7 linked regions of the Homo sapiens genome follow. The protein of the gene in region 1 purifies or fractionates together with the protein of each later gene. This does not show direct contact. Each region holds a gene or a part of one and is shown in the gene's direction. Other genes may lie near its edges. The genes, in order: CLEC4C, TBC1D22A, ATP8B2, PCSK9, ENTPD6, BRF1 and SLC25A30.

Region 1 (4,252 bases):
ATAATTTGTTCTATTTTAAATTATTTTTCTCATTTTTGCCTTTGCTCCTTTCTTCTCAGCATTGTATACTCAAAGGAATACCCTCATACTCTACATTTTAATCCAAGACAGAGGAAAGCAACAGGGAGAACCCCTGAGGCAGGGGCAGAGGGAGGTTCAGGGAACTGTAAATGGGAGGTAGACAAGAGACCAAACAGGACTTTAAGTTGTTTCAGCAAGTATACAGCTTAGAAAGGATCTCATTGGTCTGGGTCCTAAAATATCTCAAAGGATGGCTGCTAACTCAAAACTTTTTTTTTTTTGAGACTGAGTCTTGCTCTGTCACCCAGGGTGGAGTGCAGTGGCACGATCTCGGCTCACTGTAAGCTCCGCCTCCCGGGTTCAAGCAATTTTCCTGCCTCAGCCTCCTGAGTAGCTGGGACTACAGGCATGCACCACCACACCTGGCTAATTTTTGTATTTTTAGTAGAAACGGGGTTTCACCATGTTGGCCAGGATGGTCTCGATCTCTTGACCTCGTGATCCGCCCACCTCAGCTTCCCAAAGTGCTGGGATTATAGGCATGAGCCACCGTGCCCAGCTCAAAACTTTTTTCTCACTACTCTACAATTAAATCTCAGTTGAACTCTGGGAAGATTCTGGAATACCTAGGTTCTTTCTTTCTCAGTGTCTATTTCACCAGTAGTTGTAACCATCCTTCAACCAAACATCTCCATTTGAGTAGCATAGGCTATAATGGATTTTCTCTATTTAAGATTACTCAGCAGTGGCCGGGCACGTGGTGGCTCACAACGGTAACCCCAGGACTTTGGGAGGCTGTATTAGTCCGTTTTCATACTGCTGATAAAGACATACCTGAGACTGGGCAATTTACAAATGAAAGAGGCTTTTTTTTTTTTTTTTTTGGAGATGGAGTTTTGCTCTTGTTGCCCAGGCTGGAGTGCAACGGCAGGAGGTCAGGAGTTCGAGACAAGCCTGGCCAGTATGATGAAACCCTGTCACTACTAAAAATACAAAAATTAGCTGGGCATGGTGGCACATGCCTGTAGTCCCAGCTGCTCGGGAGGCTGAGGCAGGAGAATCGCTTGAACCCGCGAGGCAGAGGTAGTAGTGAGCTGAGATTGCACCACTATACTCCAGCCTGGGTGGCAGAGTGAGACCCTGTCTAGAAAAAAAAAAAAAAAAAAAAAAAAAAGACAATCAGACCTGCAACCATGAACTGTTTTTCATGTATTTCTCGATTTCCTTGTTTGTGTTTCCTTATTTCTGAACATGATGTATGTTTTAAATTGAAAGCTTTAGCTCACTGCAGAGTCTCCTAAGTCACATCTCTTCCTTTGCAAGAGTAGGCGAAGAAGGATCTAAGGGCTTGGCTTGTTTGAAAGAACCACACCCCGAAAGTAACATCTTTGGAGAAAGTGATACAAGAGCTTCTGCACCCACCTGATAGAGGAAGTCCAAAGGGTGTGCGCACACACAATGGTGCCTGAAGAAGAGCCTCAAGACCGAGGTAAGCACTCATCTTCTCAGTTCTAGGGAAGGTAGTAGGAGCAGGATGGAGTGGGAAACAGGCATTGAGGTGATAGGGATGACTTTGGAAGAAGAAGTAGACAGCTTTTCATAAATAATAGTAATTTCAGTATGGAAACAGGTATGGACCCAAGATACTTGGATCAGGGAAAGATGAAAGAAAAAAAGAAAGGCCGGGCGGGCGCGGTGGCTCACGCCTGTAATCCAGCACTTTGGGAGGCCGAGGTGGGCAGAGCACCTGAGGTCAGGAGTTCGAGACCAGCCTGACCAACATGGAGAAACCCTGTCTCTACTAAAAATAGAAAATTAGCCAGGCGTGGTGGCACATGCCTGTAATCCCAGCTACTTGGGAGGCTGAGGCAGGAGAATCACTTGAACCTGGGAGGCGGAGGTTGCAGTGAGCCGAGATCGTGCCATTGCACTCCAGCCTGGGCAACAGGAGTGAAACTCCATCTCAAAAAAAAGAAAAAAAGAAAAACAACTCGGGCCTAGAAGGCCTTAAAGGAATATGAATTTGGCCAGGCATGCAGGCAAATGCCTAAAGTCCCAGCTACTCAGAGGTTGAGGCAGGAGGACCACTTAAGCCTGGAAGTTTGAGGCCAAGGCTGTGCAATTCAAGGGAAAAGAGAGTAAGGAATTGGAAAGTACAGTTTACTCTGAGAGTTTTGCCTGGATTTGTCTTGGGTTCCAGGGTACTATCTGGTCATTTGTTCTGAGATAATTTCTATAATCTCTTTTTGCTTTCACATTTTTTCTGTTTTAATTAGTTTTGATCATAGCCTGACTTTATTATTCTAAGATTTTTGGGACTCTGGTTTCCTGGCTCTTTGGCAGTGGGGATTATGACTGTGCATTTGTCATGCTGATCTGACAGAGAAAGGACTCTGGTGGTTCCAGTTGAAGGTCTGGTCCATGGCAGTCGTATCCATCTTGCTCCTCAGTGTCTGTTTCACTGTGAGTTCTGTGGGTAAGTTCTTGGCTGGAGTGCAGTCATCTCTTGGTCCTTTTCCCAATCACATTTTATCAATTTCCTGAAGAAACACGTTCCTCTTTCTTTTTTTTTCTTTTTTTTTTTTTTTTTTTTGAGACGGAATCTCGCTCTGTCGCCCAGGATGGAGTGCAGTGGCGTGATCTCGGCTCACTGCAAGCTCACCTCCCGGGTTCATGCCATTCGCCTGCCTCAGCCTCCCGAGTAGCTGGGACTACAGGTGCCCGCCACCATGCCTGGCTAATTTTTTGTATTTTTAGTAGAGACGGGTTTTCACTGTGTTAGCCAGGGTGGTTTCGATCTCCTGACCTCGTGATCCGCCCACCTTGGCCTCCCAAAGTGCTGGGATTACAGGTGTGAGCCACCGCGCCCGGCCACGTTCCCCTTTCTTGACATAAAATGGCAACCCTAACTGAGAAGGCTATGTTTCTAATAAAATGAGTTATTACTATTATTAATTATTCTGGATAATTGTGTGTACTTCCAGGTTTCTTTGCCTGGTTTTAGTTGCATTTTTCAAATGTGATCATAACTGTCTTGGTCAGCTTGGGCTGCCATAACAAAATACCATAGACTGGGCCAGGCGTGGTAGCTCATGCCTGTAATCCCAGCACTTCGGGAGGCCAAGGCAGGCAGATCACCTGAGGTCAGGAGTTCAAGACCAGCTTGGACCATATAGTGAAACCCTGTCTCTACTAAAAATACAAAAATTAGCTGGGTGCAGTGACTCGCGCCTGTAATCCCAGCTACTTGGGAGGCTGAGGCAGGAGACTCAGTTGAACCCAGGAGGCAGAGGTTGCAGTGAGCCGAGATCACGCCACTGCACTCCAGCCTGGGTGACAGAGTGAGACTCTGTCTCAAAAAAAAAAAAAAAAAAAAAAAAAAGCATAGACTGAGTGAGTTAAAAAACAGATATTTATTTTCTGATGGTTCTGGAGGCTGGAAGTCTGACATGAGGATGTCAGGATGGTTGGGTATGGTGAGGTCCCTCTTCCTGGCTTACAGCTGATGCCCTCTTGCTGTGTCCTCACATGATGGAGGGAGTGCTAGCTCGTCACGGTTTCTTCTTATAAGAGCATTCATCTCACCATGAGAGCCCCCCCTCATAACCTCATCTAAACCTGATTTCCTCCCAAAGCCCCTATCTTCAAATACCACAAATTGGAGCTTGGGACTTCCATATATGAACTTGGGGAGGACGCAATTCATTCTATAACAATAACTCCACTTTGATGGGTGTGCTGATGGTGGGTACCATCTAGTTGATCTGCTCCTTTGTTTTAAAAAAGTCTCTATTGGGAACATAACTATTATTCTTTCTATGATGCTATAATTGTATTACTGTGGGGTTTTAATCTTCATGTGAGATTCTTCCCAACATGACAGGAAAAATTGTTCATATGGCCAGGCAGTGGCTCACACCTGTGAGCACTTTGGGAGGCTCAGGTGGGAGGATCGCTTGAGGACAGGAGTTCAAGACCAGCCTGGGCAACAGAATGAGACCCTGTCTCCATAAAAAATAAAAAATATAACTTGGCATGGTGGCATGTGCCTGTGGTCCCAGCTACTCAGGAGGTTGAGGCAGGAGGATCGCTTGAGCCCAGGAAGTTGAGGCTGCAGTGAGCCATAATCGTACCACTGCAATCCAGCCTGGGCGACAGAGAGACCCTGTCTCAAAAAATAAAAATAAAAATAAATGTTTATACAGTGATACAATGGAAAAATAAACAAAGT
Region 2 (3,500 bases), on another chromosome or scaffold:
AGAGATGGGGTTTCGCCATGTCGGCCAGGCTAGTCTCGAACTCCTGACCTCAGGTGATCCATCCACCTCAGCCTCCCAAAGTGCTGGGATTATAGGCGTGAGCCTCCATGCCTGGCCTTGTTTTCCTCCTTTTTTTTTTTTTTTTTCTGAGACAAGAGTCTCTCTCTGTAGTCCAGGCTGGAGTGCAGTGGCATGATCTCAGCTCACTGCTACCTCCACCTCCTGGGTCCCGGTTGAAGCAGTTCTCCTGCCTCAGCCTCCTGAGTAGATGGGATTATAGGCACTGGCCACCACGCCCAGCTAATTTATGTGTGTGTGTGTGTGTGTGTGTGTGTGTGTGTGTGTGTGTGTGTGTGTATTTTTTTTGAGACGGAGTCTCACTCTGTTGTCCAGGCTGGAGTGCAGTGGTGCGATCTCGGCTCACTGCAAGCTCCGCCTCCCGGGTTCACGCCATTTTCCTGCCTCAGCCTCCCGAGTAGCTGGGACTACAGGCGCCTGCCACCACACCTGGCTAATTTTTTATATTTTTGGTAGAGACGGGGTTTCACCGTGCTAGCCAGGATAGTCTCGATCTCCTGACCTTGTGATCCTCCTGCCTCGGTCTCCCAACGTGCTGGGATTACAGGCTTGAGCCACTGTGCCCGGCAATTTTTGTATTTTTAGTAGAGATGGGGTTTCACCATGTTGGCCAGGCTGGTCTTGAACTCCTGATCATGTGATCCACCAGCTTCAGCCTCCCAAAGTTCTGGGATTACAGGCGTGAGCCACCACACCCAGCCTTGTTTTCCTCTTTGTTTTTGAGTGCAGCCCTCATCTCAAGGAAACTCAGGAGGAAGACTACACCCACTGTACAATACAAGACTAGTAAGGGATCTTTCAGATAGTTCAACTCTTTTTTATTTTTGAGATGGAGTCTCGCTCTGTCGCCCAGACTGGAGTGCAGTGGTGTGATCTAGACTCACTGCAATCACTGCCTCCCGGGTTCAAGTGATCTTCCTGCCTCTGCTGCCAAAGTAACTGGGATTACAGGCGCCCACCACCATGCCCAGCTAATTTTTTTGTATTTTTAGTAGAGATGTGGTTTCAACATGTTGGTGTGGATGGTCTCGATCTCTTGACCTCATGATCCGCCCGCCTTGGCCTCCCCAAGTGCTGAGATTCCAGGCATGAGCCACCGTGCCCGGCCCACACCTCCTGTTTTTATGCAGCCTGAACTAAAGTCCCCCTTTTTTGCATCAAACTCAGTGTTGTTGGTGCCTCTGGCTTCCTGTTCTCCCTGGTATGTGCTTGCTTTCACTAGTGAGATCCACAGGTTTAGGAAAAGTATCTTTCTCATTCTTGCATTGTCAGTACCGATACCTGGTGTTTATTCCGAACTATCTCCTCGATTAGCCTGGAGAGTGAGTGGTTTGGCCAGGGCTATAAACTGCAGGAGAGGTGGTCTTGCTGGTAGACCCTCGGTTTATGCACACCCTGGTCCTTAGGTTGCATATGTGGCTGACGCTTTCCTAGAAACTTTGTTTCTGGATGAGCCAGGATGTGTGGTGTGGTAGATAGACCCTCCTAGTCAGAGGACTAGGAGTTGGTGGTCCAGATTTTAACTTTCTTTTTCCGGTAGTGGTCTTCACCAAGTTACCTCTGGGGCCATCAGTGTCTGTATCTGTAGCACAAAGCGGTTGAGTTTGGTTTAAGTAGCTATGGCAAATGGGGAGATATCTTTGGCTTAGCACGATTCTCTTTGAGGAGAAAAGAATGGGCTTCTTGGACCAGTTTTGAGAATTTGATGATTTGCTGATCCAGCAAATATGTATTCAACCCATAGTATGTGTTAGGAACAGCCCCAGGTGCTGGAGATAATATTAGTGAACAAAATAGACCTAGATCTCTGCTCTCCCAGAGCTTACAGTGCAGTGGGAGAGCCGGGTATAAATAACATAGCTCAGTTAAATGGAGTTAACTGTTGGAAGGTGACAGCTGCTATCAAAACAATGCTGGGAAAGAGGACTAGGTGGCTTAGTGGCAGGTGTGGTGGTGAGAAGGAGCCCTTCACTGAGGTGACATTTGAGGAAAGATTTGCACGAGGTGAGGGAACAGGCCAACCAGGAGGCTGGGGAAGAGCGGTCCTGGCAGAGGAGTGAGCAGGTGCAGAGGACTCCCAGAGCGATGCTGGCGTGCTTGAGGAGAGGAGCTGGGGCCAGGGTGGGTCTGGCCGAGAGAAGGGGAGAGTCGTGGGGTGCGTCATGAAAGGTGGTGGGGTAGGGCCTCATGACCACAGTGAAGACATGGACTGTTCTTTGATTCTGGCTGAATGGGGAACCTTTGGAGGGCTTTGAGCAGAGAAGTGGCATGGTCTGCATTAGGTTTAATGGGATATCTTTGGCTGCTGTACTGAAGACAGATTGGAGGCGTTGGGAGTCGGGGCAAGGGCAGAAGCAGGGAGACCAGGAGGCCAGGGTGCCGCAGCGTCCAGTGGTCACTGGTGGTGGCGGCTTGCACCTGAGTGGAAGCTGTGGTGGTGGCAAGAAATGGTAAGTGATAAGAATCCGAAGGTTTGGCCGGGCGCGGTGGCTCACGCCGGTAATCCCAGCACTTTGGGAGGCTGAGGTGGGTGGATCACTTGAGGTCAGGAGTTTGAGACCAGCCTGGCCAACATGGTGAAACCCCGTCTCTACTAAAAATACAAAAGTTAGCCAGGCGTGGTGGCAGGCGCCTGTAATCCCAGCTGCTTGGGAGGCTGAGGCAGGAGAGTCGCTTGAACACAGGAGGCAGAGGTTGCAGTGAGCCAAGGTCGCGCCACCGCCCCGCAGCCTGGGCAACAGAGCGAGACTCTGTCTCAAAAAAAAAAAAAAAAAAAAAAAAATAGAATCTGAAGGTTCAGTCTCTGACTGTCTGGGCTGGTTCTTTCCCGGGCCGCTGACTCTCTTGGCTCCCGAAGGGCTGTTGCTTTCCGCAGTTGCAGTTGGAATTCTCGCCACACTTCACTTTAAAAATGCCAAGACAAAATCACAGCACACTGGGCTTGAGAACACAGGCAGTCTTTCAGTGTGGGTCTGATGTTTGCTATTTTAGCTCAGCTCCGCCTGGCAGGGTGTGGTCTGCTGACAGAGGGTATGCAGGCAGCTGGGGTATGTGGAGTATGACGTTTGAAAGTGGCATGGTGGTGGCTGGGCGCTCTGGCTCATGCCTGTCATCTCAGCACTTTGGGGGGCCCAGGCGGGTGGATCACCTGAGGTCAGCAGTTCGAGACCAGCCTGACCAACATGGTGAAACCCCGTCTCTACTAAAAATACAAAAAATAGCTGGACATTGTGGCAGGCATCTATAATCCCAGCTACTCAGGAGGCTGAAGCAGGAGAATCATTTGAATCTGGGAGGTGGAGGTTGCAGTGAGCTGAGATCGCGTCACTGCACTCTAGCCTGGGCGACAGGGCAAGACTCTGTCTCAAAAAAAAAAAAAAAAAAAAAAAGAAAGTGTTATGGTAGCAAGAAAGGCCCAAATT
Region 3 (3,996 bases), on another chromosome or scaffold:
GGGCCACCGTTGGCACAGCCACTTACCAGCTGTTGGTGGCTCTGCACCACCCTGAGGGCCCAGAGCCAGCTCAGGATCTGGTGTCTGCTCAACACAAAGCCTCAGAGTTGGAAACTCCTGCCTCAGCTCAGATGCTGGAGTGTAAGCTATGATTAGGACAACCCTCACTTCACTCATGGACCCTGGAGCCAGCCACTGACCCCGCCTGGGAACAACAGTCATTCTTCCTCTTTGTTAATGTGCCAGAACCTGGGAGGCTTCTCTGTTTATCTGTTTGGCATCCCTTCCTCCTAAACTAAGAAGGATCCTGGACAGGGAGAAGTGGAGGAGGATAAGGTACCAGGACTCAGGCTTCTCATCCCCTCCTCCCGCAAAGCGGTTTTCTGACCCTCAGGGCCTCTCGGAATGTAGTTGCTCGAGGTAACCGCTAGAGGGTGCGCACCTGGATGCTGGATGGGGACGGCTGCGGGCATCTGCAGGGTGGAGGGGGCCACCATCCAGTGTAGGGCACAACCCTGGGGACTGCCCTCCATAGCCTGTCCCGACTGCCGACTCCTAGCTCTCATCGCCTCGGCGCCTCCCACCTTCACCCTCTCGGGGATGCCTCCCCAAGAGGGTAGTTAGGGGTGGGGAAGCCGCCTCCACCCAGGGGGCGTGGTGGGGGCGGAGGGAAGGAGGGCGGCGGGGCACAGAGACAGAGAGCAAGGCTGTGAAACTGAGGCACCGTTCCTAGACATCTCGGTGCTGTGTCGTTCATTCAAGGAGAGTTGAGATACAGTGAAATGAGCCAGGGCGAGGAGGGAGGGTGAAGGAACGGAGGGCGGGCGGCTCCGAGGAGCGAGAGTCGGGCTGAGGGCAACCTGGCGCCAGGGAAAATTCTGGTTATTCACCACTTCTACAGCTCTCCTGCCGCTCCCTGCAGAGGATGCTCGTTTTGCAGAGAAGGCAGTGTTCCTCTATTCCCTTCTTCCGAATTAAAAATACCCCCTCAGAGCGATCTAGCCTCCCGAATTGTTTTTTCTTTTAAGATGCGGATGGACGTACGTGTGGGGGCATCCCAGCCCAGCCACGCCGAGGCTCGGAAGGGCTAAGACCCTCCCACTGCCCCGCACAAAGATGGCTGCTCCCTCCTCCCCGCTCCTTCTCCCCTCCCCAAAACCCCCTCCCGCCCCCCGGCCCCCGCCGCCGGCTCCGTCACTTCCGCCCCGCCGTGGCCGAAACTGACACAAAGTAGCGGGCCGAGGCCCCGGGGGAGCGGGGCCGCAGCTGGGGGGGCGGGAGCCCGTGGGGAGCCGAGCCGAGCGCCCCCCGCCCCAGCCCCCGGCATGGGCAGTACGGGGCCGCCGGGGCGGGCGCCGAGCGCTGAGCGCTGAGGTGAGGCGAGGCGAGGCGAAGCGGGGGCGCCCGGGAGCGCGGGGCCAGGAGGGCAGAGGGAGATGCGGCCGCAGCCGCGGGGCTGGAGGGGCCGGGGAGCGGGTGTAGACTGGGGAGCACCGGGGGCCAAGATTTGGGAGCTGCGGCCAGACGGGGCGGGGATGGCGGCCGACTGGAGACGAGGGGCTGTCGGGTTCCCGGGGACGGGGCAGAGCGGGGGTCTGCGTACAGGATGGGAGGATGGGGTGCCGAAGGGGCGCGTGGAGAGCAGGAGAGCGGCGCGAGTGCCAAGGAGAAGCTCGTGCAGCCTTGGCCAGGGGAGACCCGCCCAGAGAGTTGTTGGGCGAGAGGAGTAACCGGGACCCGAGGGTTTGGTGCCTGGAGAAGGGAGTTTGGGCTGGTAGGCTTTGTCTCAGTAAGGTGGAGGTCTATGCCTGAGGAAAACTGAGGGTGTCAGGAAGGGGCAGTAGCTCTGGGAGATGATAGCTGTGCCGGGAGCCCTGAGTTCTGTCCTTGGTGAGGGAAGGTGGCCCGAGCTCGTGTTGGTGGCCAGTGAGCTGGAGGTCTCGAGTTCCATTTCCTCCTGTTTCCCTGACCTGCCATCCTCCTCTGAAAGAAGTGGCCAGCCTTTGGGGCTCTTGCTTGTAAGGGAGCAGGGACCGGACCTATAGGAGGAGCTGTTTTCCTCCATGGAGCATTGCCTGCTTGCCGGGGCTGGCTATTTTTATCCCAAATGTGGCCGAGAGGGGGCTGGGGCTGGGTGACGGGGCAGGGCAACGTGGCTGATGGGCCTGACCTGCTCAGAAAACCCAGGCTGTGTGAGACTAAGAAGGAAAAGTGAGAGGGGATCCCAGTTCCCAGGTCTCTCCTCTCTTCCCCTTGGAATGATGGCCCCCCCAGAGGGGATGAGGTCTGGGGCCAAGCCTGCTTCCAGTCTCCCCAGGGTCTCAGAGGTAGAACAACTTTCCTGGTCCATATCCAGACTCCTGACTCCTGATGGCGTGTGCAGCTCCTACATTAACTCTTTCATGGGACTCAAACTCAGATGTTTAGGCTGATAGTGTTTCTTGATCCCTTCCTCCCCAAGGGCGGGGCTGCCTGTAGAACTTGTGATGCCCACTCTTGCATCCTTTAACCTCTCCCTGTGCTCCCCACCCTCCCGTGACTCATACTCAGACTGGGTGGAGACCCTGGCTGGGGGCCCTGGAGGAGGGCTTGGCATCTCTAAAATATGGATGAGGTTTTTCTTCCTGAGCCAGGCACCCTGGACTGCCATAGTTGGAGAAGGTCAGGGATGAAAAGGACTTCTGGCTTTCAGGATTGCCTGACTTGGTGTAAGGGCGGGATCTGAGCTAGCGAAGGGAGAACTGGTGTGGGTGACTGGGTTGTGGCCAGAATCTGTAATTATAGAGCTTAGCCAGACAGGCAATTAGTATCTCTTGGGGCTGACAGGTTGGTGGGGTGTGCCTGGTAGGCTAAAGGCAGAGGGAACCAAAGAGGATGAGGAGGTGAAAGGCCTTCCACCCAGACAAGGAAAGAGGAGGTGACTGACTGGCAGTTTCCTTTGGGCCAGGCTGGGGAGTAAGGATGAGGCTCTGCCTTGTAAGGCCAGGCCTTGAACCTTTTAGGAGAAAGGACATGGGAAGGCGGAAGCAGGCAGAGGCTTGTCTCACTGGTGCTCCCTAAGCCTGCACCCTGTGCCATACTGACTGGACTAGGCTTGGGGTGGGAGGGAGGGAGGGGCAAACTCCCCACCAGGGTTGGGAAGACCCCTCTGCCAGCCCAGAAGGGTGGCTGACCCAGGCTGAGGGGAAGCTGTTTAGGGACTGTCTGTGCAGAAAGTGAGGGCCATGCCTCTAATGTGAGCTCCCCTGGAGGAGGTGATAATGGAAGCCCTAGTAATGGGGGGTGGGGATGGCAGGGAACTTATAAGCCTTTCGAGAAGGGTGGAGCCTGCCCACCCTGTTTCCTGATGCCCTGCCAGGTGTTTCCTGGCTCATGTTCCCTCCACCCCACCCTTTGGGGAAACTGCTTTCTAGTAAGCACAAGCACTACTCATTGCCGCCAGAACACATGAGAGCCTCCATTGTCCCTGGGATGGATACCTTGAGAGCTGTTCCCCTTTTTTCAATATCTGGCCTCTTCTCCTTTCCCTACAGGCATGGGCTTCTGTAAAGTCTCAGCCCCCCATGTCACCCAAGGCAGGGGCATGATGGGAGGTGGTGGGGAAGTCCCCTCTTTCCCAGGAACCCATCATGGCAGTAAGAGGAGAGACTGGGAGAAGGAGGCTGGGGGAGGGGCAGGGTCAGAGCTGGAGAAGAGGGTCTTCAAAAGAGGTCTCATGAGGGGAGGGAAGGGTTATCCTCAGCTTCCTGACCTCATTCGTCTGTCACTTCTTGCAGGGTCTCCCATGGGATTGCTGGGATCTTGCTGGGTGAGATGGCAGTGTGTGCAAAAAAGCGCCCCCCAGGTAAGACAGGCAAGGAGGGGAGATCCCGGGAACCATCAAGAGTGGGTGTTGTTATGGCTCAGGGAGCAAAAGGAAAAGGGACAACTGGTATGGGTCTGAGGGAGGGTAGCTTACAGCAGCCCCTACCCAGCTTGGGGGCAGCCTAGGAAACC
Region 4 (3,500 bases), on another chromosome or scaffold:
CCCATTGGCTGAGCCCAACTGGAAGCTTTGCAAGGGAGCTGGTGCTGCAGTTTGCACTGAGCAGGCTGGAGAAGGCTGGAGAATAGACTAGGGGACAAACCGAATTGCCAGTGCTGTTATGTCATGATTTAGGCATGGAGTCCAGGGCCTGAGCTTCACTCCATGTCCATCCTGCCCAGAGCCTTGGCACAGCCTGGCTCCCAGACAAGATGTCAAGTTCAGAATCCTTCCTAAAAGGAATCCTCTATGCCAGACCGTGTTGCAGGGATATGGGAGTGCTGGGCTCCCAGCCTGATCAAGGAGCGAGAAAACTCAGGCTCCTAGTCTGTCCTCCGGGGCACTAGCAGGGACAAGGTGGGAGGCTGCTGGGCTGGGATGTGGGGACAGGTTTGATCAGGTAAGGCCAGGCTGTGGCTGTGTTTGCTGCTGTCCAAATGGCTTAAGCAGAGTCCCCCGGCCTCTCTGGCTTCTGCAGGCCTTGAAGTTGCCCCATGTCGACTACATCGAGGAGGACTCCTCTGTCTTTGCCCAGAGCATCCCGTGGAACCTGGAGCGGATTACCCCTCCACGGTACCGGGCGGATGAATACCAGCCCCCCGGTAAGACCCCCATCTGTGCCCTGCCCCACCCCATCTGAGCTGAATCCATTTGCTCTGCCCTGGCCTGGCCTCCCTGCTGGTGGTTTCCACTTCTCGGGGGGCTTTGGGACTCAGCACCTCCACTGACCCCTTTTTTTCTGTCCCATCCCCATCCCCTGCAGCCCCCACTGCCTGCCTTCCTGTTGCCCCACAAATGCAAAAGTCTTGCCTTAAATGATCCTCTTTTCCTTCTTTTCTCTTGTTTTCCTTTTCTCACCATTTGGAATGGCCCAGCAGGCTGCACTTACCTTGGAAGGAGGGTTCATCTGATGGTGACTCTACCTAGGGCCCCCAGGCCTCTATAACTCCCAGTGCCCTGCAGACTGGACCAGATCCTTTAATGGGATAGACACAACCCTGTCTGGGATGCCTCTGCCTACCTTCCTGTTTTGCTGCTCCACCTGCCTCCAGCTCCGTTTGGCTTCCTGGGGCTCCCTGCCTGGGCCACTTTGTGTCTTCCCTCTAGGCCTTTCTTTCCACTGTTCCCTCTGCCTGGTGTGGCCTGGCTATGGAAGGGAGGGAGGAGGAGCGGCCATGGAAAACGGTCTGCATTCTAGCAGGGACTTGCAGGTGGCAATTCAGTCGGGGAAGACTCTAGATGCACCTGGCCTGAGGAGAGAATGAAGGGTTCTAGTTGGACTGTGTTAAGTTTGAGGTGCCCATGGTGTGAGGTCTGGAGCTCAGCGCAGAGATGATGCAATGTGGTGGGTCCATGCAACATGGTGCCAGGACGCAGAGCTTGGGGTGAACTCAGCTTTCACCCCTTACCGGTTCTCGTGGGATCTTGGGAAGCCACTTTCTTCTATGAGCTTTGTCGTTCTTGTCTGTAAAATGGGCACATAACCCTGTCCCTGTCCTTCTCACAGGTTGCTGTGAGACTCCAATGAGTTGAAGGATGTGCAGATGCTTTTGGAAGTGAAAAGTTGGGGGGCTACTGTGTGACTTTGCATACACCCAAACTGTGTGACCTTGCATATGTCTGAGTTGCTGCCATTGCAACAGATCAGAGCTGGTGGGCTGGGTGTGGAGAAAGGGTTTGTGTGGGGGACATCCTCTGGCAAGGGTGGCAGCAGCAGAAGTGAGGGGCCTGGTCGGTCATGTGTGCTGACCCGGCCTGGGCAGCCTGTGGCCAGGGAGAGGACAGCTCCTCTGTAGGAAGAGCCTGTTCCTTTCCAACCAGGTGAGACCTCTTCAGTGGAGCCCTGGAGCCCCCTGTACTCCACATCAGTGCCTCAGGGACCTCCCGGAGCAGGCTAATATCAGAGACCAAGAGGGACACTGGCAGAGGATCACAGAGACCCCAGTCCAGGCAGGGACTGAGAAGATCTTGCCCCCTAAGTTAGTTTCCTAGCACTGCTGTGACAAATTACCACCCCCTCGGTTGGAACAAGTTGATTCTCTGCAGTCCTGGAGGCCAGAAGCCTGAATCAGTGTCGGCAGGACCACTTTCTCCCGGGGGGCTCCAGGGAGAAGCTTCTCTTGCCTCTTCCGTGTCCCAACAGCGGCAGCACACCAATCCCAGCCTCTGTCTTCACACAGCCTTCTCTGTGTCTCTCTCCTCTTCATTGTCTCATAAGGACACTTGTCATTGGATTTAGGGCCCACTGGATCCTCCAGGATGATCTCATGTGGGGAACCTTAACCACATCTGCAAGGACCCTTTTTCCAAATAAGGTCACAGCCACAGGTTGTGGGGGTTAGGATGTGAGTGTATCTCTTTGGCAGCCACTGTTCCCTCCTCTCCCTTGGGCCAGAAGCAGACGTGGGGCCCTTTCTTCCCCATAGGATGCCCATGGATTGCCCCCCTTCCCGCTTCCCCCGAGTGTCTGTGGGAGGTGGCAGGAATGGCAGGCAGGGGTGTGGAACCCCTTCTGGAGTCATATCAAGGGCTTGGCTGGAGGAAGTCCTCCTGGAGCTGTTGGGCTGGCATGGGGCAGGCTGGCTGGGCCCAGCAGCAGCTTCTTCATTCATGGGGAGGCCACAAGCATGGGCCCTAGAGCTGGCTGCCGCCCTCAAACCCAGACCCTGCACTCTTAACTGTGTGACCTTGCATACGTCACTCACCCTCTCTGATCTTCAGGTTCCTCTGCAAAAGGGAGGTAATGATAACCCTCACTCTGGGGGGCTGTTTGGAGGGTTAAATCAGTTATTGCTGTAGCATGCATTTCTCTGTCAGGTATTGAGTGAGGTGCTGTGATTTTAGCCCTGCATTTTTCTTTTCTTACCATTCAATAATAACGTTTTGAGCACCCACTGTGCGCCAGGCACCATATTAGGTGCTGGGGATACAAATGTGAATGAAATGAATGTGGTCTCTTCCCCCAACAGTGTATCCAGAAGATTAATCCATTCCTTAAACAAATGCTACTTGACACAGATTAGTTCTGGATAGGCTGAGAGCTCTGAAGGAGTGCAGGCAGCTGCGAGCCTGTGTATCCAGCAGAAGGATCAGGAAAGGATTCCTGGAGGAAGCGCTGTTCTAGCCAAGACCTACGGGGGCATTATTAACCAGGCAAAGGGGACGGTGTCCAAGCAGTGGAATGAACGTGGATTGAAGCTGTGAGGCAGGAGGGAGTGTGGCCTGTGCAGAAGGGACCGAGGCTGGTGAGACCAGGAGGGCCTGGGTGGCCTCCAGGTCAGATGTGAAAGGAAGAACTTGGCCACAGTCTGAGCTTCTCAGGCGTATGGCAGGGCTGCCTGGTGAGAGGGAATGAGCTCCCTGCTCTGGAGGTATGCAAGCAGGACTGGGCTCTCACCTGCCAGAGGCCACAGAGCTTTCCAGAGGCTGGAAGAGGCCACTCCAAGGCCTCTTTGCCCCTGAGAGTGGTGGCTCTTCTTGAGGCCACCTTGCCACGCTGTCAC
Region 5 (4,029 bases), on another chromosome or scaffold:
CCAACCAGGTGCTTGTGGGCGACCTTCCAACAGGCACCGCATTGCCCGGCTGCCAGGCCGGGCCTGTGTACTGTCCCCGCATCCCATACAGCTAGCACTTATTCACCCTCAAAAGCGTCCCATCCTGAAAATAAACTCTTGCCCACTTGGTGCTTCAGGAACCTGGGCTTCTTCCACTAATAGCTCTCCCAGATGCCCCAGTGCGCAGGTGGGGCCGTCCTCTAGGACCAGGCCTGGCTGGGGCGCACCCACACCTCCTTGGCCAGACGCCATGGGCCGGGAAGGGGCTCTGGCCCTTGCGGGAATGAGGGCGCCTAGCATAGGTGTGCAAGTGGGCAGCCCCCACCGTGGGGTCCTTAAGTAAGCTGGAGCCTGTGAGCCAGGACAGTCAGGAGTTGCAACCTTGGTGATTTCTAGGAAGACAGAAAATGGGGTCAAGGGCCGGGTGTGGTGGCTTATGCCTATAGACCCAGCACTTTGGGAGGCCGAGGCAGGCGGATCACCTTAGGTCAGGAGTTCGAGACCAGCCTGACCAACAGGGCGAAACCTCGTCACTACTAAAGGTACAAAAATTAGCCAGGCGTGGTGGCGCACACCTGTAATCCCAGCTACTCAGGAAGCTGAGGCAACAGAATCGCTTGAACCCGGGAGGCAGAGGTTGCAGTGAGCTGAGACCACATCACTGCACTCCAGCCTGGGTGAGAACCTGTTAAAAAAAAAAATAAGAAAATGGGGTCAAGAAACGGTGGGAGGAGGGCAGATTTCATGAACCTGCCTGCTATGATGTGGCTGCATTTCCATCATGCATTGTCCTAAAAAAAGAAAAAGAAAAAAATAAAATGTAGACGTGGAGGGATGGGGGAAATTGCACAGGCCGGTCCAGGCTGTGAGGCTGCCCCCTACCAGGGACGACGAGGGCCAGCTCCGCCGCGCCGTAAGGAAACTGGCCAAGGGAACCCCTTGAATCTGGCGAGGGCCCGCCATGAGACGCTCGGGGAACCAGACTGCCGAGCCCCCCTCTCTGGGCCGACGCCAGCCCGGCTGTGGACTGGAGAAAACCGCAAGGCCACCTGCAGAAAGAAAAGAAGGCCATCGCGCCTACGCAGCTGAGCACCCATACTCCGCCCGCGCCTGCGCAACTGGGTCCCCCGACCCCCACCTCCTCTCCCGCCTGCGCATGCGCGGCTGGGTGCGCCCCCCCGCCCAGCCTGTGACGCCACGTGCATGGGGCGGAGCCCAGGCCCTAGGGAATCGTGGGGTCGTATCCCGCGGGTGGAGGCCGGGGTGGCGCCGGCCGGGGCGGGGGAGCCCAAAAGACCGGCTGCCGCCTGCTCCCCGGAAAAGGGCACTCGTCTCCGTGGGTGTGGCGGAGCGCGCGGTGCATGGTAAGCGGCGGGCCGGGGCGCTGGCGGGGGCGGCCGGGGATCACCGACTGTAGGCGGGCCTCCCCCACGCGGGCGCGCTGCGCTCCGGAGGACGGCCTCGGGGTCACTCGCACCCCGGGTCCCACCTCCTGCTGCCTTCCTGTCCAGGCTCCATTAGGGCTCCCTGGATGTCTGGGCTCCGCTGACCGGTGGGGGGCAAGTCCAGTGTTTTGGGCCACAGGGCGGGCCAAATAGCAGGGGCCTGTAGCCCCAGGGGGCCCCAGCCCTGCTGCGTTCATTCATTCAGCCCGCTTTTGCGGACCCGCCCCCAGTCTGCGTCAGGGACAGACCCCTCCGCCCTGGATGAGCCCGGCGGGGAAGCTTCGCGTAGCAGTTTCTGGGAAACAGGTAGGATCAGGCCGCTCGGACAGGACTGAGGGTGTAAGGACGATTCACCCTGGCATTGGGGTGGTGTCCCGAGGAGCTCATAGGTGGTCAGGGCGGTTCTGCCCGAGCTGACCTGTGAGCCGCGAATGCCCTGGACCGAGGGAGGGAGAGCCCCCTAGGTGGACAGACTAGACTCCTTCAGTGGAAAACATTCAACAGCCAGGAGAGCGTGGAAGAGGAAGGAGAGATGGGAGGGCCCAGGGGAGCGTGGAAGGGAGGGTGTTTTTATTATAAGTGCACCTGTAAGTGCAAAGTGCAAAGGAAGCAGCCGCCGGGAAGTGCCTGGGCAGCTCTGGGTGTCCCTCCAGGCACCTGTATTCCAGCCTTACCTGCGCGAAGCCACACATCCCACGTCACACAGGATACGGGGAAGTCAGCCATAGCCTGCAGGCGGGGAATCTGAAACCTCGCGCAGGAGTTCCTTGGGAGAGGTGGATTACAAGGACTCTTCCTCCCACCCGCTGTGCAAGAGCCATGGGCGGCCGGTAGTCATTTTTGAAGGACCTGGCAAGCACTGTACAAATCTCAAAATTGCTTTTTGTCCCCCTCCCCTTGCCTTGGAGAGAGTGGCTGGCTAGTGTGTGTGTCGTCTGCCTCCTGAAGGTTCGGGTAAAGGACCAGGGAGGTGGGCAGCCCTTTGTGTCAGGAGATCTGGAAGCGCCTCCCCTCCCACCGCCTCCTGTGTAAAGGAAACAGCAGGTGGTGTTGACGGGCGGTTCACGCACCGGTTTTTGCCAAGGAGAGAAAAACCTACTGAAACCCACCAGGAGGATGAGTGGAAGTTTCTAATGTGCTTCATTTTTTGATACAGCGTGCATGGCAGGCATTTGCATTCATGACCCTTCCGTGTACTTGAACTGAAAACCTGAAGAAACTGGCCAACAGATTAGGCAGCCATCAATCCACATCAGATGGCCCCTGTATTTCCAAGAGGTGACCTGCCATCCCCATCTAGAAAGCCAACCAGGGGACAGGGTAGCTCCTACCACCAACAACACTGCTCTACCCTCAGATTCTCTTCTCTGACTCCTGCCTCCACCTGCTGGAGGGTGGCCTCAGCAGGAGCCACACCTCTCTGTTTGCCTGTGTGCACCCTACTTCCTACCCCTGCCTTCCCTCAGTCCCCACCCGCTACCTTCCTTACAGCCTCATCCCACCCTGTCTCTCCTTTAAAGAACAGACTGAGATGGCATTGTTTTCCTCAAAGAGTCTGTCAGGGAGAACCTGATCAACACATTCACGCTGTGGTGTTAGTGGTTCCCACAGAAACCCCATTTCCTCTCCGGCAGGTGTCTCAGCCATGGGCAAACACCTTAACCTAGTGGAATGAAATTGCTGTTTAGATCTGGGACACAGGTACATGGAGATGACCTGTTCCTTGGGGAGAGGGGATGGTGAACATGATTATAAGAACTCTTCTTCCCACCCTTGTGCAAGAGCAAGGCTGTTCCTGGTTCTGTGCTCTCTCAGTACTGTGTTCTAGTTGGACTCTTGCTTTTGTCTTCCTGAACTTGGTGTGTAACTTCAGTAATTATGTCTATGTAAGGTATGTCTATGTATGTGAGTGTTTTTTGGATCTCTAAAGTCGTGATAAAGCACGTTCAATTTGGGGACTGAAGCCAGGGACTCTTGTGTGCTCCACCACACACTGACTGCAATCTCAGACAGTTCCGTTTACACACATTCCCAGGGCCTTGGTGCTGTCTTAGGGAAACCCAGGGCTGTGAGGCAGGCTTTGTGGGGTGCTGGACACAGGGCATGGCACATAAAGGGTTTTTTTAAATGGGTAGACAGTAAATAAGGAGCAACTTTGCCTCTAGATTTAATATACCACCTGTGAATCTGATCATGTAGAATATGGTTCTTAGACTAACATAGGACATGATAAGATTTGATTATGGGCCAGGTGCGGTGTCTCACACCTGTAATTTCAGCACTTTGGGAGGCCGAGGTGGGCAGATCATTTGAGGTCAGGAGTTCGAGACCAGCCTGGCCAACATGGTGAAATACCGTCTGTACTAAAAATACAAAAATTAGCTGGGCGTGGTGGTGCATGCCTGTAATCTCAGGTACTTGGGAGGCTGAGGCAGGAGAATTGCTTAACCTGGGAGGCAGAGGTTGCAGTAAGCTGAGATTGTGCTACTTCACTCCAGCCTAGGTGATAGGTGAGAGAGTGAGACTCTGTCTCAAAAAAAAAAAAGTCTTGATTACATAAAGA
Region 6 (3,500 bases), on another chromosome or scaffold:
GAAAGCAAGTTGTCATGGCAGCAGACGCAGGGTTTCCCGGGCAGGCACAGTGTTAAGTGCATCCGGGCCTGGTGACAGCGCACTGCCCTCACTGTGCCCTGCCGGGGGAGGATGGTGGTGTGGAGCAGTGCAGAGCTGGAAGTCTGTCACCCGGGTGCTGTCAGAACAAGCTCAGAGCCAGCGCTGTCAGGTGGCCCCAAGACGCCTCTGAGCCCAGGCACACTCTCTGGAGGGAGGCGCAGGCCCAGCAACCAACTGTGGTGGTCCTGGGGGAAGTGCTGCGAGGCGGCGGGTTCTTAGCCCCTGGGGACCGGCGCAGGTGGTGCCTGGGCCGAGAGTGGGGAGGAGAGAGGGGATCTGTTGCTCTGGGCAGCCCCTCTGTCTCCCAGGCAGGCTCTCTAGGTGCCCACTTGGCATCCTTCCTCCCTCGTCACAGTGGTGATCACAGGGGGCTGGAAACCTTGGTGGCTTCTCAGTTTCCCTGGCACACAAGTAGGCCCCAGCCGCCCCTTCCTCCAGCTTCATCTTGAAAGCTGAGCTTTCTCTCTGAGCTGTCGTTTTCTAGTCCCAAGGCCACTGTCTTTCCTAGGTGTTTTGCCTATTAATTGAGAACTAAGCCTGATACAGCTTCGCAGTTTACTCTGGAATATTTAACTAAGGCATCAGGGCAGGTGACCAGAGGCCTCAGGAGAGTCCCCAGAGGGTCCTGACCTTGGAAGCCAGGCCCCACGGGGGAAACCACACTGGTGCTCCAGCGTCCCGGGGCACCCGAGCAGAGACTGTGCAGAGAGAAGGGTGGGTGAGGACTGAGGCTCAGCGTGGCTGGAGGGGCCAGGCAGACGGTGGAGTTGGGGGCCGTTGGCAGTGCCCTGAGGAGGCCGTCTGCTCCACTGAGGCAAGGCGGGGCTTCCCTGTGAGCCCACATCAGTGTCCTGCACTGTGTGTGCCCTGAGGCTTCCCTCTGCCAGCAGGTGATGGTGATGGCGCCCACACACCAGACATCCTGGGCTCCTGCTTGCAGGGGTCCCTCCTCGTCCTGTGCAAGGAGCAGCACACCTCAGTGTCACCAGAACTTGTGGGGGTGGGGAGCGTTTCCCGTAATCACAACTTTCAGTGGCTTCACAGTTAGAACTTCGAAGCTGGGGTGTCCGTGAGTGCTGCTGTTTTCCGTTTGGGGTCACGATGCAGCCGGACCTAATTTGTGACATGGCTGCATGTCACCTGGCGCTGGCCCTGGAGGGGGACATGGGTGGTGGAGTTGCCCTCGCCTGCTGGGAAGCTCCCTCTGCCTCAGAGAAGGATGTGACCGGCCAGCCTCTCCCTGCGGCCTGGGGTTCTGAGCATGCGCCTGGCCTCCTGGCGGGGCTCTAGTCCTGAGGGTGGAAGGCTCCAGGCTTCTGCCTCTGCTCCATGACCCCCAGAACCCTAAGTTGTGGCTGAAGGTGCCTGCTCTTAGGAAACGGGTGAATTCTGTCCCGTTGCCATCTGGGTGAGGGAGGAAGCTGCTGGTTAGCCTGCAGCGTGACACACGTCCTGTTTTCCGTAACCAAATTGTAATCACTACAAAACCAGCTCCTCCGCAGTGGCCTGGGGAAGGGGCCTGGGCTTGGGAAGGGGTCTGGACCTGGGGAGGGGATGTGGGCCTGGGGAAGGGGTGTGGGCCTGGGAAAGGGTTGCTCCTGGGAAGGGTCTGTGCCTGGGAAGGGGTGTGCGCATGGGAAGGGTCTGCGCCTGGGAAGGGGTGTGGGCTGCCGTGCTTGGCCCTGTTTGTCAGTGCTCCTCCCAGATGTCTGATGCTACTGCATCCAGCCCCACCAGTAGGCACACGCTCTGTGTTCCCGGGTCCCCGTCCCCAGCTCTCAGGGATGCACTGCGGTCTGGTCCAGCCTCCTTTGGGCACTCACCTGTGGGACCCCTGAATTCCTCTCCATCCATTACTGCCCAGCCAGCCAGGCCTCCTACAGGTGTCTCCCCTTAAAAGAAGTTTCCAGTCAGGTTTGGTAGCTCATGCTTGTAATCCCAGGATTTTGGGAAACCAAGGTGGGAGGATCACTTGAGGTCAAGAGTTTGAGACCAGCGTGGGCAACATAGTGAAACTGTCTCTACAAAAACTAAAAAAACAAAACAAGAAAAAACCCCAAAATACAAAAATTAGCTGGGCATGGTGGTGGGCGCCTGTAATCCCAGCTACTTGGGAGACTGAGGCATGAGAATCGCTTGAACCCGGGAGGTGGAGGTTGCAGTGAGCCAAGATCGTGCCATTACACTCCAGCCTGGGCGACAGGAGCGAAACTCTGTCTTGTCTTCAAAAAAACAAACAAAGAAAACAAAAAATAAGAAAACATTAGCTAGGCGTGGTGGCGCATGTCTGTGGTCCCGCCTATTTGGGAGGCTGAGGTGGGAGGATTCCTTGAGTCCGAGAGGTTGAGGCTGCAGTGAGCCGTGATGGTGCCCCTGCGCTTTAGCCTGGGTGACAGAGTGAGACTTCTTTTTTTTTCTTTTTGAGATGGAGTGTCTCTCTTGTTGCCCAGGCTGGAGTGCAATGGCGCAATCTCATCTCACTGCAGCCTCCGCCTCCCGGGTTCAAGCGATTTTCCTGCCTCAGCCTCCCAAGTAGCTGGTATTACAGGCATGTGCCACCATGCCCGGCTAATTTTTGTGTTTTTAGTAGAGACGGGGTTTCGCCATGTTGGCCAGGCTGGTCTCAAACTCCTGACCTCAGGTGATCCACCCGCCTTGGCCTCCGAAGGTGCTGGGATTACAGGCGTGAGCCACCACGCCCGGCCAGACCCTGTCTCTTAAAAAAAGGAAGTTTCACAGCAGCAACAGAAAGTCTCCAGTTAAAAAAAAATTTTTTTTTGACAGAGTCTTGGCTCACTGCAACCTCCATCTCCTGGGTTCAAGCAGTTCTCCTGCCTCAGCCTCCCGAGTAGCTGGGACTACAGGAGCACACCACCATGCCTGGCTAATTTTTTTTTTGTATGTTTTAGTAGAGACGGGGTTTCGCCCTGTTGGCCAGGCTGGTCTTGAACTTCTGACCTCAAGTGACCCACCCACATCGGCCTCCCAAAATGCCGAGATTACTGTCATGAGCCACTGAGCCCGCCCCCAGTTAAGTTGAATGAGCACGTGAATATTAAAGGTTATTGCTTTCTCATGTTGGAAGAATCCTGGTGTGAAATGGACAGTGCTGTGCTGGGTCTTTCAGGACATGGAGGGCCCCTGGCCCGCCTTTCTGTCTGTTCGGCGGTATGGGGTGTTGCTGGCTTTGTCGGAGCTCAGAGGTGCCCCTGCGGCCTCTGGCCCTGCTCTGGCTCTGGTGGAACCGCAGGTCCTCCCTTGCTGTACACAGGGGGGCAGTCTTGGCCAGGCCCCACAAGACCTGGCCCCTTCCACATGTCAGTTCCAGCTAACGGGAACTAGCACATATTTTTTGTTATAGAAACACGCTATGGAAAATACCAAATGTTTTTAGAAGTAGAGGGCATCCTGGCAGTTTC
Region 7 (3,500 bases), on another chromosome or scaffold:
GAAATTTCTAATCCTTTTAAAATTACTTGATTCATGAAACATACTTTTATTTTTTTGAGATGGCGTCTTGGTCTGTTGCCCAGGCTGGAGTACAGTGGCGTGGTCTTGGTTCACTGCAACCTGCACCTTCTGTGTTCAAGTGATTCTCCTGCCTCAGCCTCCAAGTAGCTGGGATTACAGGCAGCTGCCACCATGTCCAGCTAATTTTTGTATTTTTAGTAGAGACGGGGTTTCACCATGTTGGCCAGGCTGGTCTCAAACTCCTGACCTCAAGTGATCTCCCCACCTTGGTATCCCAAAGTGCTGGGATTACAGATGTGAGCTACCATGCCCGGCCTGAAGCATATGTTTTTACATCTTAAGGTGAACAAGTAATGTGTAAATAAGTTAGACCTATAGTTGAGTTTCTCACGGGAAGAACTCTAAATATGTAGAGTCAAATAATGTGTCATTGTTTACAGATGAAACTCTACCGATAAATGTGATATGTGGAATTCTGTCTGGAGTCATATCTTCAACCATTGCTAATCCAACTGATGTTTTGAAAGTAAGCTGTGCTATCTATATCTTATAGGCACATTCCACATTTTCTTATTGAGAACAACATTCGGGTAATGGAATCTGTGAATGTAACATCTGTGTATATGTGAATCTGTTTATAATTTAAGTGCCATGAAGACTAACTTTTAAAGGTCCATGAGGTGGGTTTTCCACTTATACAGATGAGCTCAAAAGCAGAGCTCATTTTGGAGACAAAGATTTCGGTGATTGAGGAGAAAAAATTATTTAGGCTTGGACTGCATTTCATTTTCGTTTTTCACGGAAAATGTTCCTTGTTTTATTGGTTCATTAAATATAGATGGACTGCAAGTTTTGCACAGATCTAGGCTGCTCATTAATGACTATTTTTGAATCCATCTTTTTTTTTTTTTTTTTTGAGATGGAGTCTCACTCTGTCGCCCAGGCTGGAGTGCAGTGGCACGATGTCAACTCACTGCAACCTCCACCCTGCTGGGTTCAAGCGATTCTCCTGCCTTAGCCTCCTGAGTAGCTGGGATTACAGGCACCTGCCACCGTGCCTAGCTAATTTTTGTATTTTTAGTAGAGATGGGGTTTCACCATCTTGGCCAGGCTGGTCTTGAACTCCTGACCTCATGATCCACCCGCCTTGGCCTCCCAAAGTGCTGGGATTACAGGTGTGAGCCACCGTGCCTGGCCTGCATCTTCTTTGTTAAATTTTATTTCAGGAAATACAGATGAAAAAATTTAATTACTACAATTAGATTACATAACACATTAGGAGACCTTATTGAAAATACTAGGGATAGAGCATCTTTAAATCCTTTTTTGGAAGCAACTAATTAAATAAAATAAAAATTAGGAATGACTTACTTTTTGAACCCCACAGAGTATTCCTTTCCTACTTCCCCTCTTTTCTTTTTCTGCCCCACTATTTAACTAGTATTCTATGCTTCTATCTTGTACCAGTTGGTATACGCCATGGTTAGAATCCAAATATGAGTAAGACAAGGACCCTGCCCTCAGAGAGCCTTCAATCTAATAGGGGATTCTGACAAGCATTACAGCCATCTGCAGTATTCTGGGTACACTACAGTTATATATGCATTGTAGCAAAGGGACCTCGTGGGTAAGGAAGAAATACAAGGTACCTTTGCCATAAGTTTACCAGTGTTGGGGTAAGAGAGCTAGAGAAAAATATTCGTACTCTCATTAATTTCTTAATTATATCTTAGGCCTTATGGGAAGGCAGTTCCTGTATCTTGGTTTATTTTCCCACGTTCGTGTGGCAATAACAGTTCTTTTAGAAGTTAGTGGTAACGTATTTGCTCCCTAAACAAAAATAAGGTACACATTTTGTAGTAAAAAATCTTTCTTCATTCTTAAAAATGCAAAGAGCTACATCAAACATTCTTTTTATGTTGGAATCTTGGTCATGTGGATTCCACTAATTAAAGTGTAACAGAGTGTAACAGGTATCATGTGGCTGTCACTTGGCTAGCTCGCCTGCATACCTTTTGGTTCAGCTGGCTGGAGACTGTAGTGGCTTGGAGCAGCTAATTTAAGAACTATGCTTGCCTGTGCTTCGTGCTGCCAGGTACACTGGATAACTCATTAATTAGATTAAACCTTTGAAATTAACTTTTCTCTCACCTATATAGTAGTAGGGAAGTATGCTGTTTTCTATCCTAGAAAGACTTTTTTCACAAAAATCAGTTTCTCCTTTTGACATTTAATGAACTGCTGTACGTAGGACTCTGGACTCTCTTAGATGCTTTTTGGAGATCTCAGAGTTCCTAAGAATAAATTTTTATACGTTTTAGTCATTTTAAGGTAGCATCATAGCAGTATTTATATGACAGTTTTTTCCTTGCTAATGGTTATTAAGCAACTGACTGACGGACTGACTGTCAGAGGTATACATTGGTTGTGGGTGGGATTGTGGTAGTTTCTTTCTGATGTTGGTCTTTAAAATAATCTCTAGATTCGGATGCAAGCGCAAAGCAACACCATTCAAGGAGGAATGATAGGCAACTTCATGAACATTTACCAGCAAGAGGGGACAAGAGGACTGTGGAAGGTAAGCCAGAAGGATGGATCGAACTGATTTATTTAGTTCTTTTTTCCTTTTTTGAATTTACTTGTTCTATCACTTAATTTTAATCCAAGTGTCGTAATGGAGTAAGGGAAGAGGAGTGGCATCTTCTGCCCATGAAAATATCTTTCTTTATTTCCCTATCTATAAAATGGGAATATAAGGAATATGTCATGATTTTTTTTTTTTTTTTTTTTTTTGAGATGGAGTCTTGCCCTGTTGCTCAGGCTGGAGTGCAATGGCACGATCTTGGCTCACTGCAACCTCCACCTCCTGAGTTCAAGTGATTCTCCTGCCTCAGCCTCCTGAGTAACTGGGATTACAGGCGTGCGCCACCACACCCCGCTAATTTTTGTATTTTTAGTAGAGATGGGGTTTCACCATGTTGGTCAGGCTGGTCTCGAACTCCTGACCTCAGGTGATCTGCCTGCCTCGGCCTCCCAAAGTGCCGGGATTACAGTTGTGAGGCATTGCGCCTGGCCTATGTCATGATTTTTAAAGTTGCTTTTGAATAATTTATGTATAAGATATTGTGTGAAGGATAAGCACTTTTTTTGTTGTTGTTTGGTCTTTTGCTCTTTTTTTTTTTTTAAATTCTTATGGAGAAGGATTTTAGGTTACAGTTCCATTGGGTGTTTTGATCCATACAATTTCATGGCTTGTAACTGAAGTCTGTGTTATTAGGCAAGCATGTGGTGTAGAGTGTTATTTCCTAGTATTCTAATGACTTGTCAGTTCATAGAATAGCCCCTAAAGATCATCCAGTGTGATCTCTCAGTTCATAGAAGGAAACTGGAGGCTCTGAGAGGTGACTTGTCCTGGCCAAAGTCTGGCCCAAGGTCATATAGTTAATGCCAGCATCAGAATTAGACTTCAGAGTTTTTGA

What was found.
Region 2: the proteins of CLEC4C (region 1) and TBC1D22A purify together in Homo sapiens (co-immunoprecipitation; one large-scale study listed by IntAct). This does not show direct contact.
Region 3: the proteins of CLEC4C (region 1) and ATP8B2 purify together in Homo sapiens (affinity purification with mass spectrometry; one large-scale study listed by BioGRID and IntAct). This does not show direct contact.
Region 4: the proteins of CLEC4C (region 1) and PCSK9 purify together in Homo sapiens (affinity purification with mass spectrometry; one large-scale study listed by BioGRID and IntAct). This does not show direct contact.
Region 5: the proteins of CLEC4C (region 1) and ENTPD6 purify together in Homo sapiens (co-immunoprecipitation; one large-scale study listed by IntAct). This does not show direct contact.
Region 6: the proteins of CLEC4C (region 1) and BRF1 purify together in Homo sapiens (affinity purification with mass spectrometry; one large-scale study listed by BioGRID and IntAct). This does not show direct contact.
Region 7: the proteins of CLEC4C (region 1) and SLC25A30 purify together in Homo sapiens (affinity purification with mass spectrometry; one large-scale study listed by BioGRID and IntAct). This does not show direct contact.

The regions. Positions count from the first base shown.
Region 1 is NC_000012.12:7,744,576-7,748,827, reverse strand, and holds the start of CLEC4C (C-type lectin domain family 4 member C), read left to right. Parts: upstream 1-1,452; 5' UTR 1,453-1,479; coding exon 1,480-1,510; intron 1,511-2,404; coding exon 2,405-2,497; intron 2,498-4,252. UniProt on the Homo sapiens protein: Lectin-type cell surface receptor which may play a role in antigen capturing by dendritic cells. Specifically recognizes non-sialylated galactose-terminated biantennary glycans containing the trisaccharide epitope Gal(beta1-3/4)GlcNAc(beta1-2)Man.
Region 2 is NC_000022.11:46,765,650-46,769,149, forward strand, and holds part of TBC1D22A (TBC1 domain family member 22A), read left to right. Parts: intron 1-2,398; exon of another isoform or gene 2,399-2,528; intron 2,529-3,500. UniProt on the Homo sapiens protein: May act as a GTPase-activating protein for Rab family protein(s).
Region 3 is NC_000001.11:154,324,329-154,328,324, forward strand, and holds the start of ATP8B2 (phospholipid-transporting ATPase ID), read left to right. Parts: upstream 1-1,196; 5' UTR 1,197-1,374; intron 1,375-3,418; exon of another isoform or gene 3,419-3,533; intron 3,534-3,776; 5' UTR 3,777-3,813; coding exon 3,814-3,844; intron 3,845-3,996. Other genes in the region: AQP10 (aquaporin-10), read left to right, coding at 1-152. UniProt on the Homo sapiens protein: Catalytic component of P4-ATPase flippase complex, which catalyzes the hydrolysis of ATP coupled to the transport of phosphatidylcholine (PC) from the outer to the inner leaflet of the plasma membrane.
Region 4 is NC_000001.11:55,046,048-55,049,547, forward strand, and holds part of PCSK9 (proprotein convertase subtilisin/kexin type 9 isoform 1 preproprotein), read left to right. Parts: intron 1-475; coding exon 476-599; intron 600-3,500.
Region 5 is NC_000020.11:25,194,483-25,198,511, forward strand, and holds the start of ENTPD6 (ectonucleoside triphosphate diphosphohydrolase 6), read left to right. Parts: upstream 1-1,229; 5' UTR 1,230-1,382; coding exon of another isoform or gene 1,383-1,385; intron 1,386-1,490; exon of another isoform or gene 1,491-1,727; coding exon of another isoform or gene 1,728-1,772; intron 1,773-2,140; exon of another isoform or gene 2,141-2,410; intron 2,411-2,622; exon of another isoform or gene 2,623-2,744; intron 2,745-4,029. UniProt on the Homo sapiens protein: Catalyzes the hydrolysis of nucleoside triphosphates and diphosphates in a calcium- or magnesium-dependent manner.
Region 6 is NC_000014.9:105,291,002-105,294,501, reverse strand, and holds part of BRF1 (transcription factor IIIB 90 kDa subunit), read left to right. Parts: intron 1-3,500.
Region 7 is NC_000013.11:45,401,374-45,404,873, reverse strand, and holds part of SLC25A30 (kidney mitochondrial carrier protein 1), read left to right. Parts: intron 1-461; coding exon 462-547; intron 548-2,503; coding exon 2,504-2,599; intron 2,600-3,500. UniProt on the Homo sapiens protein: Antiporter that transports inorganic anions (sulfate, sulfite, thiosulfate and phosphate) and, to a lesser extent, a variety of dicarboxylates (e.g. malonate, malate and citramalate) and, even more so, aspartate.